Linked DNA regions of Homo sapiens. The protein of the gene in region 1 interacts with the protein of each later gene in a pairwise test. Each region holds a gene or a part of one and is shown in the gene's direction. Other genes may lie near its edges. The genes, in order: ZNF774, BLK and FAM124B.

Region 1 (3,750 bases):
TGACTATAATTGTGTAGCAAAATAACTAAGATGCCACTGGCTATATGGAAAAAAAAATTACTTAGGATTTTGATACCTTTTATGGTTTATTTCCCCTTTTGGCCTGTGAACTTCATGAAGGTAATGGTTATGTATGATTCCCGAGTAATCACAGTTCCCAGAACGATCTTTTTTTTTTTTCTTTCTTTTTTTCTTTTTTGAGACGGAGTCTTGCTCTGTCGCTCAGGATGGAGTCCAGTGGCGCGATCTCGGCTCACTGCAAGCTCCACCTCCCGGGTTCACATCATTCTCCTGCCTCAGCCTCCCGAGTAGCTGGGACTACAGGCGCCCGCCACCACGCCCGGCTAATTTTTTCTATATTTAGTAGAGACGGGGTTTCACCATGTTAGCCAGGATGGTCTCGATCTCCTGACCTCGTGATCCTCCCGCCTCGGCCTCCCAAAGTGCTGGGATTACAGGCGTGAGCCACCACGCCCTGCCCCCAGAACGATCTTGAGAACAGAATGTTCCCAATAAATATCCACTGGAAAATGCACCTTATTTTTGTTGAAGGAATGGTGGAATTAGCATCAAAGGGATCTTCAACATTAACTCGGGCCGGGCACGGTGGCTCACGCCTGTAATCCCAGCACTTTAGGAAGCCGAGGCGGGCGGATCACGAGGTCAGGAGATGGAGATCATCCTGGCTAACATGGTGAAACCCCGTCTCTACTAAAAATACAAAAAATTAGCCGGGTGTGGTGGCGGGCGCCTGTAGTCCCAGCTACTCGGGAGGCTAAGGCAGGAGAATGGTGTGAACCTGGGAGGCAGAACTCGCAGTGAGCCGAGATCGTGCCACTGCACTCTAGCCTGGGCGACAGAGCGAGACTCCGTCTAAAAAAAAAAAAAAAAAAAAACTCTATGGCTGGTAATTCTAAGCGTTTTATAATACATCACAAAATGTTCTTTTATTTTTCTAAATTGCACTGAATCAACAAACGGAGTAGACAGGCACATTTTCTTCACTTTAAGGAAAGACTTTGTTGTTTTTTAGCTAGGGGCCGACCCAAAGTGATCACTGGCTCTCACATGAGACCCAGGAGCCTCCCCAGTTTGAAGCCCGATATCACATTTCCCAGAATACTTGATGCCCTCGCCCGCCTCCTCTGGCTATCAACCAGACGGAAAGGGGATGTGCCTGGGAGTTTGATGCCAAGGGAAGGATGCGGAATGTCTGTTTTCTACTAAGGGCTTCTGCTGGGCCTTTCCAATGTCCAGTTTGAGTTGGTCTGGGACCTGGCCTCCGCAAACACCCTGCAGGCTCCGGCCGCCGGGGATGAGGTGGAAGACTGGGCAGAAGAGAGGCCGCAAAGGCCCGAGGGCTGAGCTGCTCTGCGCTGGGGAGGGGCGAAGTGCCAGAGCGCGGGAGACCTCATGGTGGGCACCAGGCTGCTCCGCGGTAGGTGGGTGAGGCCAGGAGATTCACATCTGCAGATGCCACAGTGAGGATACAGCATTTAGATCCCTCGGCTCCAAACAGGCGGTTCCGGGGGACCGGTAGCTGGGGAATTGGGTTTAGCACTTTCCAACGCTTGGAACTGGACATCCACGGCTCCGAGTCCTTTGAGGTCTTGCTCGGGACTACGTTTCCCAGAAGGCTAGGCGATAATTGACAGCTCTATCAGCCTATGGACAGAGAAAAATTCTAGCCATGGAAACTGAAAAGCCAATAGCAAGAGGATGGGGGCGGTACTTTCCGGCCGCTGGCTGTCGAAGCCGGAGTCCCACCTGTGTCCCCACAGCCCTGTCACGAATCCCGGTCGGGTTCTGGGAGGCACAGCCTCGGGGTTGCGGGCCGGGTGCGGCTCGGCGGTGGAGGACTCACTTCCTGCTCCATCCCCGGCTGGGCCCTGGGGCGGTGAGTGATTCAAGGAGGGAGACCGCGGCGGCAGCGGCGCGCTGCTGAGGGGCGTGGAGGGGGCTTGCCCGCCACCCAGACGTTTTCTCAGCGGGGTTCCCGCGCTGGCCTTTGGGAGCCCCCGGGTCTTGCTGGGCTGTGGGAGAGGTAGCTGTGGTCTCTATACCGTCGGCGGGATAAGTCATTCTCTTAATCAGTTTTCTTGCTTCTCGATGGTGGTCCCAGGGTTTCAGCTGATCTGTGACCCTCTGACCGCCGCACCCCGGTTAGGGCGCGAGCACCGAGAAGAAGAACGGGGTTCGGCCCCACGCGTGCAGTCATGTTCCTATTAATAAACCCGGTGAACGCACTGGAGCTTCTCACAGTGGCACTTAGTCACAGCCCCTCAGCGCTGTGGGGCCTTTGAGGTCACCTGTGCATGGGGAAAGGGACGGGCTGGGAAACAGGGTTTCTATAACCGTGGCTAAGACGTCTCCCCTCCTCAGTGGCGCTGTCTCCAGCAAGTGGGCCCTGCAGCTGTGTTTTGTAATGAATGTAGAAATAAAAATTATACTCAAAACTCTTTTTTTTTTTTAGACGGAATTTCGCTCTTGTTGCCCAGGCTGGAATGCAATGGCGCTATCTCCTTTCACTGCAGTCTCCACCTCCCGGGTTCAGGCGATTCTCCTGCCTCAGCCTCCCAAGTAGTTGGGATTACAGGCGTGTGCCACCACACCCGGCTAATTTTGTATTCTTAGTAGAGACAGGGTTTCACCATGTTGGCCAGGCTGATCTCGAACTCCTGACCCCAGGTGATCCGCCCGTCTCGTCTTCCCAAAGTGCTGGGATTACAGTCATGAGCCACAGCACCTGGCCAATACTGAAAACTCTTATTACAATTTTTACTTTCTAATTACATTATTGTTGTTTGTTAAAGTTTTAAACCAGAGAGATGGTTTTTAGATCCTTAAAAACTCAATACTTTATAAATGACCAATAATAATGTCTGTAAATACAAAAATATTTCCCCCAAAAGTGTGTGTGTGTGTGTGTGTGTGTGTGTGTGTGTGTGTGTGTTCCAGTAGTAAATAGGTGATTTGTAGTGGGACAAAAGATGTGAAAGAGTAAAACTTCTTCACCACAGTCTGGTCCTTCCTCCCTTGAAATGCAATATTCTTTGTAGTGGGTGGTCATGCTGGCTGCATTTTTTTTTTTTTTAAGGGAGAGACAGGGGCTCACTCTGTTGCTAGGCTGGGGTGCAGTGGCGCCATCATAGCTCACTGCAGCCTGGAACTCCTGGGCTGAAGTGATCCTCCCACTTCAGCCTCCTGAGTAGCTGGGACCACAAGTGCATGCCACCATGCCTGGCTGATTTTTAAAAGTTCTTTGTAGAGAAAGAGGTCTCAATATGTTGCTGAGGCTGGTTTATTGGAAACTTTTTAAGGGAAAAAACATTATCTTAATTTCTATGTGACTCCTATGCCTGGCAACATATTAATTGTTGAATAAATGACTGATCCATCCAGTAATTCACTCTTGACTATCCTCCAAAAAGTAATGTTTTTCATGATATTGCTGTCGATTTATTAATATATTAATGATTGGTTTCAGCCCCTAAGAGTTGTGTTTTGTGCTTATTCCCACTTTCACTTATTTTTACAACCTATCCATGTCTTCTTTTTTTTAAAAAAAAAATGTCTTTTTCAGTCTTATTTCTGACTCCATTAAGATCTTGAAATAGAATGGTATCCAACACAGTTCCCTTTGGGGTTCTGTATAATCTGTCCCTTGAGGTTGACACCAAATCTGCAAGCCAAGAAGTTAGCTGCTCCCATAACTAATATGAGTATAGTTAAGGCCACAATTTCCTTGCT
Region 2 (3,750 bases), on another chromosome or scaffold:
ACCTTGGGTAGACAGACCATGTATTTTCTTTGTAGGATGCTGGGTTTCCTGCTCTCCACTACATTCTCTATACCCTCAAGTCCAAGTATATAAAAGTTGTCCAAACGTCAGCTATTTAGGCCCTATTGAAAAAATGTTAGAGGCGGTTCAGGCAGCGTCACAACATCCTGGTTCAGTAAAAGACTCAGCCTAGGGATCTGTCTCTGAGAGTCTGTAGGAGTCTTAGTCACGAATCATGTTCAAAGCCTTCTCCTTGGCAGCTTCCCCCAGTGACCCCTGATAGAATTATTGCCTCCGCCTCTGGTCTAGCACTGTGCCCCGTTGAGGCCTCTGTGGCTACATCTACTACGCTCCACTGCAGTGATCTGCTTATCAGGCCCCTTCTCCAAGCTCCTTAGGCTGAGACTCTCAGAGGAGGATGGAGTGTAGCTGCGTTGGTATCCCCAGCCTCCAGCAGGTGCTTAGCACAGAGCAGGTGTTCAGAAAAACAGTGCTGCATTAATTGAATTGAAATAGGAAGACTAAGTTACCTCATCTCAAATCAGTCACTTTTTAAATCAGAAGCTCGCAGAGTTTGGAACTCATGTTTCATGTTTGGATCCATGTAGTAGGTATCAGGAAGTGAATGTAAGAGTAAATTAACAGGAGCTGCCATGGACTGAGCAGGCCCAGGGTTCTGGACATTGTTGTGAGCCCTCTGCTACCACGTGGAGAAGATCAGCTTTGGGATTTAAAGCAATTAGCCACATTCACATCAGCTTCCAGGTATTTGCAGTTTATTATGTGCTAAATACTGTAATAGATACTTTTTATGCATGAATCCATTTATTCTCACAAAACCCCTTGGGGAAGTGAAACAGATTATTTCCATAGTGTCTTAAAACCCCAGAACTCTGCGTTGCTGCGTCTATTGACATGAACACCTGTCAAACCTGCAACTCATAGCTCAGTATTGTCTCAGTCCAATCCAAGGAAATGAACTCCTTGAGAAAGCTGACATTCTGGACCATGGGGTAGAAGCTACCCTGTCTGCCTCCCACACCCACTCTCAAGGATCCAAGACTATGAAGGGAGAAGAGAGAGCCCACCGAGTGACTTCCTCTTATAAGCCAATATCAAGACACTAGTGGAAAGGAACCAGCTGACCAGTGGCTCACTGTGTCTGGCTGGACCAGCAAGACTCTGACGTCATCACAGAAGCCTTCTTGGTCCCATTGGTCCTTTGACTGCTGTGTACAGGATGCCACCCACCACTCCAGACACCACTCACCACTCTAGATGTTGGGATCCTTCTCCCGTTACCTCCATTATTCTTGTTCTCTACTCCTCTGAGTTTTCATAGCCAAGCAAATTTCCACCATTGAAGAGGCTCTGAGATCCAAGTCAACTAACTACTGGCTAGGGTACTGTAAAACACATGGGAAATTAGCTTTTACCAAACACCAATTCTATGCCCACCATTCATACCCATTCTACCATTTAATGCTGATAGTATCCTGTGAGCTAGCTATTATTAGCATCATTTAAAGACAAAGCAAAACCAGTGAGGCTGAAAGAACGGCTGCCCTGGTGCACACAGATGGCACATGGCAGAGCCCAAGCCCTCTCCATGAGATCTGCAGCGTTTGTCCACACGGCAGGGCAAATTACCTTGTAGAGTCAGCATGGAGGTTTGCTAACTCTGCCGGACTTGGTGCAGAAAAAATACCAGCCGTGCTGTTAAACCAAAACCCCAGGAGAAAACTTTCTGGTGACAGAAGGGCATTGTGACCCACGTTGCCCAGGGCCAGGGACAGGGCAGCTGCTCATGGTCCTTCCTCACGAGTTTTCCTGGAGCAGAGGGATACCCCCAAACCCAGGGAGCCCACAGGAGCTTCAGAAGGGCTCGGCTGGAGGGCGGGGCCCCTGTTGCACTTGCTCACTGGGGACTGGGGAGGCTCTGATCGCAGACCGGGGGTGCTGCCACCTCTGTCTGCTGCCGGCAGAAAGCCACAAGCCATGAAAACTGATTGAGATGAGAAGAATTCATCTGGGACTGGCTTTTGCTTTAGGATGGTGTTGGAAGTTGCTCGTTGTCGCTAGGAGCCTGCTCCACTGTAAGGGTGTCAGGATCTGAAGAGCTATGGTGAAACACCACTGAAGCATTGCCAAGGTGAGGCCCTGCGTCTTCCGGGTTCTTTATCGTCTTCCTTTAAATTGTGCAAATGGTGCTGTAAGGCCTGTAGTGGGGCAAGCAAGCAAGGACATTGCTGTGGGTGCCACAGACGGAGGAAGAGGCATGAATGGATCGCTGCCTCAGCTATGAATAGATTGCTCCATGGTTTGTGCATTTCCAGTTTTGAGAATTTTTAATTTATAAAAGGTCATCCATCCAGGGTAGATTCTGCTTTTTGGAAAAGGCAGTGAATGTGCCACAGAGGAGAGAAGGGACGTGGGATGTAGAGAGGGGGTTGAGCGGGCACACACAGGCCACTGCTGCGCTCCCGGCGAGTCACTCGGCCTCTTGATAGGAGGTGATATTGACTGTGCAGAGCTGACAGAGGTTAGTGGTCACAGGCGGGGAGCATCTGGCTCAAGGCAAATGACTGTTGCTTTCGTTTTATTTGTTTGTTTCTGAATGAAGTTGTTCCATTTTTCAGGCATTCAGGAATGGGGTAACTGAATAGATGTAATGATGATCTTCTTGTTTAAGAGATCTATTTCACCAGGAAACACCAACTGTGAAAAGGAAAGCATAGTTGATCACATATTTTGAAAGGATTTGTGTAAATTGTAAGGTTTTGACAACGTTTCCATTTATCTGGTAATGCGGGTGGATGAAGTTCACCCTCATCCACCCACATTACCAAGGAACTAAGGAATTGTGCGTTTGCAGTAACAGAAGAAATTGCTGTGATATGTGCATATCCTCCTCCCTCGGGAGAGTGGGACTTAATTCCCCTCACCTTGAGTGAGGTTTGGACTAAGAGTATGGAAAGGGAGAAATAGTAGCTCTGTAGAGGAGAAACCTGCAGATGCCAGCTTCACCAAGGGACCAAGCTTAGCATCACCGGGAATAAGCTGGGCTGCTATTGTGAACTGCCACGACAGTGCGGTTCTTCCCACCAACTCATAACCCCAGTCAAATCATGAGAAAACATCAGACAAATCCAAACTGGGGAAGATTCCACAACATATTTCACCTTCAAAAATGTCAAGGTCATGAAAAACAAAGAAAGACAGGCAAAGCGTCACAGATCAGAGGAGACATGATGGTCAGGACACCCAAACCCAGAATTCGCATCCTGTATTGGATCCTAAAGCAACACCGCAAAGGTCATTAGTGGAAAAATAGGTGAAATTTTAACAAGACCTGGGGTCTCGCTAATATTGTGGTAACAATTACTGCTTAGTTCTGGCAAATGTACCATGGTTACGTAAGGTGTTCACATTAGAAGAACCTGGTGAAGGAAATATGGAAATTCTCTGTGCTATCCCTTGTAATTTTTCTCCAAATCTAAAATTACTGCAAAATAAAGAGTTAAAAAAAATTAGACTCATTCTTCCTCAGAGCAGGAGTAGCCAAATCCTGAGCATTCTTGGGAAAACTGGCGTTCATGGCCTGGTGATCACACCTTCTCTTTGAACATTCTGGAATATAGCAGGCCTTTTGAATTTTTGACCATCCATCATTCTCTCTCCCAACCCCTACCTGATTCCAGAATAGCTCTGTATTTGCCTCTCTTCATAGTATTTCTCATGGATGATTAT
Region 3 (3,750 bases), on another chromosome or scaffold:
GTCACATTTGGGGAGTGTAGAAGAGTTTTTTGGATAAAGAGAAACTCCATGAATTGTATGAAAAGAGCCCTCTTCCTCTCTGGATTGTCCCAGGAGCCTGGCCACTTCTCAGGTGTGAATGGGGCATCAGCCCCTCACTCTTTTGTTTTTGAGACAGAGTCTCTCTCTGTTGCTCAGGCTGGAGTGCAATGGTGTGATCTCAGCTCACTGCAACCTCTGCCTCCCGGGTTCAAGCAATTCTTGTGCCTCAGCTTTCCCAAGTGGCTGAGACTACAGGTGCCTGCCAACATGCCCAGCTAATTTTTGTATTTTTAGTGGAGATGGGGTTTCACTATGTTGCCCAGGCTGGTCTCAAACATCTGGCCTCAAGTGACCACCTGCCTCAGCCTCCCAAAGTGCTGGGATTATAGGCATGAGCTACCACGCCCAGCTGCCTCTCACTCTTGATAGCCCCCTTGGACATCACCTTTGTCCTGACCTCCAAACCTCAGAGACTTCTGCTTCCTCACTCCAAAACACGCTTTGATCTCCTCTTGTTAAGTCAATGAGTCTAAGCTTTTGCAAACAGAGTGAGAGATCGCCTTCTGGAAAATTCTGCTTCTGGTGTCATATAATAAAAGTGCCTGAGGAAAGTGTGTAAAGGCTCAGCCATAATCCAAAGACAACACATTGTAGCTCCTAGATAGCTTTTGATTCTTTGAATGGAGTGAATTTTTCAGGATAGAAAATTCTTGGGCGTGGTGGCTCAGGCCTGTAATACTAGCACTTTGGGAGGCTGAGGCAGGTGGATCACTTGAGGCCAGGAGCTTGAGACCAGCCTGGCCAACATGGTAAATCCCCCTGTCTACTGAAAATACAAAAACTAGCTGGGCATGATGGTGTGCACCCGTAGTCCCAGCTACTCGGGAGGCTGAAGCAGGAGAATCGCTTGAACCAGGGAGGCAGAGGATGCAGTGAGCCGAGATTGTGCCAGTGAACTCCAGCCTAGATGACAGAGCAAGACTCTGTGTATTAGTCTGTTTCACACTGCTGATAAAGACAGGCTGGAGACTGGGAAATTTACAAAAGAAAGAGGTTTAATTGGACTCACAGTTCCACGTGGCTTGGGAAGCCTCACAATCATGCAGAAGGCAAGGAGGAGCAGTCGCATCTTACATGGATGGCGGCAGACAAAGAGAGCTTGTGCAGAAAACTCTTGTTTTTAAAACCATCAGATATTGGGAGACTCATTTACTATGAGTGAATTAATTCACTGTTCACTCATGCCTTAAATAGCACCCCAGTCACCTCTTGAATGCTTTGCTGCTTAAAAATTTCTTCTGCCAGATACCCTAAATCATCTCCCTCAAGTTCAAAGTTCCACAAATCTCTAGGGCAGGGGCAAAATGCCGCCAGTTTCTTTGCTAAAACATAATGAGAGTCACCTTTGTTCCAGTTCCCAATAAGCTCCTCATCTCCATCTAAGACCACCTCAGCCTAGACCTTATTGTTCATATCACTATCAGCATTTTTGTCAAAGTCATTCAACAAATCTCTAGGAAGTTCCAAACTTTCCCACATTTTCCTGTCTTCTGAGCCCTCCAGACTGTTCCAACCTCTGCCTGTTACCCAGTTCCAAAGTCGCTTCCACATTTTCAGGTATCTGTTCAGCAATGCCCCACTCTACTGATACCAATTTACTCTATTAGTTTGTTTTCACGCTGCTGATAAAGACATACCCGAGACTGGGCAATTTACAAAAGAAGAGGTTTAATGAACTCATAGTTCCATGTGGCTGGGGAGGCCTCAAAATCATGGCGGAAGGCAAAGAGGAGCAAGTCACATCTTACATGGATAGCAGTAGGTGGCAAAGAGAGGGCTTGTGCAGAGAACTCTCATCTTTAAAACCATCAGATCTCATGAGACTCATTCTCTATCACGAGAACAGCACAGGAAAGACCCACTCCCATAATTCAATCACCTCCCACTGGGTTCCTCCCACGACACATGGGAATTGTGGCAGTTATAATTCAATATGAAATTTGGGTGAGGACACAGCCAAACCATATCACTCTGTTTCGAAAAGAAGAAAAGAGGAGAGAAGAGAAGAAAAGAAAAGAAAATCCAGCCTAAACTTCCTTGGGTCCTGGGGAGAGGGGCTGGGTAGCGAGTCTGGCTTCTGTAAGTGAGTAGTCCAGGCCTTACACAGTGTGCTCAGGATCCAGATCCCAGCTCTGTTATCACTGTCTTGGCCCTATCCTCAGCCAGGCATCCGCCAGGGTCGCCAGCTGGCTGCTAGCAGCTCTGAGGGTTACATCCTTCATGTGGATTCCAAGTGCCTTGCCCCACCATGGCGCAACAAAATGTCTGGACTTCAGTTAGACCAACTAGGATCAGATTCTCTTCTCTAAATCAATTATTACGTGCAGGAAAGTGAGATTATATGGATCAGTTTAGCCCCGAGGCAAAGGCTCTGGCTTCTACCCCTAGATGCTGTGTGGTGTTCTGTGGGACTTTTAGGGAAGGTTGTGGGTCTCCAGAGAAGATCAGGGCGGAGGAGACAAATACAGAGTGGTCCCAAATGGCTGATGTTCAGCAAAAGTAAGAAAATTATACCTATTAAAGGAAGAACCATAACCACAAACTAACCTCTCTGCAGACCATCCCTCCACATGGCCAGGATGGAGGCGTGTGTGCAGAAGACCTGAGTGTGAGGGGAGCTAGGCCGAGGAGGGGCAGTGAGAAAGCTTTCCTGAGTAGCAATGCCCAGATCTGCGTGAGCTGGGTGGCCCAGGAGGAATTAGCCAGTTGGAGAAGGGAGCAAGGGTGTCTCAAACAGGTGACCGTGGGTGACGATGTTGGTGTGGTGCTGCTTAGCAGGCCATGCTCAGCAAACTTCCTGAGGTTTCATGTGGCTGGAGTGAAGGGAGGGGGAGTCAGGGGAAGAGGATGGGCAGGTGGCCTGAGGCTAGATCAGTGGGAATGTGGTCAGCCACTGGAATGTAAGTACCAAGAGCGGGGGGACTTTTTGGGCTCACTCCTGTGAACCTAGAACCTAAGGTCAGTGTCTGGCACATGGTAGGCAAAAACATCCTTCTACAAATGAACCCTGGCTAAGTAGCTTCTATTCTATCCTTGGTGAAATGAGCAGTCACTGATGAGTCCTATGAATGGAACTGACATGGATTATTTGTGTTATGAGGGTCAAATGAGAGAATGTACATGGTGGTGCTTGGTAAAGTAGAAGCTCCTGGAGACCATGTAACTGCGGTGCAATTGTGATCTGTGCATGTGAGAGGCTGTCAGCTGTCTCTGCCAGCGCGCCCAGTGAGCAATGCGTTTTCCACATGACCTCTTGCCATTGCAGACAGTCTGATGCCTCTCAGAGTCTAGAATGGGTGGTTTTGATGACAGCGATATGAGCATATCAAATAGATGTTCAGTAAATGAATGTATGAGTACATGAGAAGGCAAGTCCATGTTTATTCATTCCTCAGAACTTTGTTGAGTTCTTGCTCTGGGCCAGACATTGTTTTTCCTTTGGCAGTTTTAATTCTGCTGTCTCAATTCTTAGTGGGTGCAAAATGATAGTGGGTTCAACCTTCCCTTTATTCGTTCAAACAGTCCCTCTGCTTTTCTCCCTGTGCTTTTGCCTCTGGTGGTAGTGACAGTGTCAGTGTGTTCTGGGGGAAGGTAGCATGGGTGATGATGTCCGCCTCTTTTTTTAAACCTCCTGCAACTTAAACTGTGCCCTCAGTCAAATTAGCTATT

Evidence for each region.
Region 2: the proteins of ZNF774 (region 1) and BLK interact in binary tests that used the Homo sapiens proteins (3 or more experiments, as listed by UniProt).
Region 3: the proteins of ZNF774 (region 1) and FAM124B interact in binary tests that used the Homo sapiens proteins (3 or more experiments, as listed by UniProt).

What each region holds. Positions count from the first base shown.
Region 1 is NC_000015.10:90,350,515-90,354,264, forward strand, and holds the start of ZNF774 (zinc finger protein 774), read left to right. Parts: upstream 1-1,769; 5' UTR 1,770-1,897; intron 1,898-3,750.
Region 2 is NC_000008.11:11,492,440-11,496,189, forward strand, and holds the start of BLK (tyrosine-protein kinase Blk), read left to right. Parts: upstream 1-1,947; 5' UTR 1,948-2,152; intron 2,153-3,750. UniProt on the Homo sapiens protein: Non-receptor tyrosine kinase involved in B-lymphocyte development, differentiation and signaling. B-cell receptor (BCR) signaling requires a tight regulation of several protein tyrosine kinases and phosphatases, and associated coreceptors.
Region 3 is NC_000002.12:224,395,377-224,399,126, reverse strand, and holds part of FAM124B (protein FAM124B), read left to right. Parts: intron 1-3,750.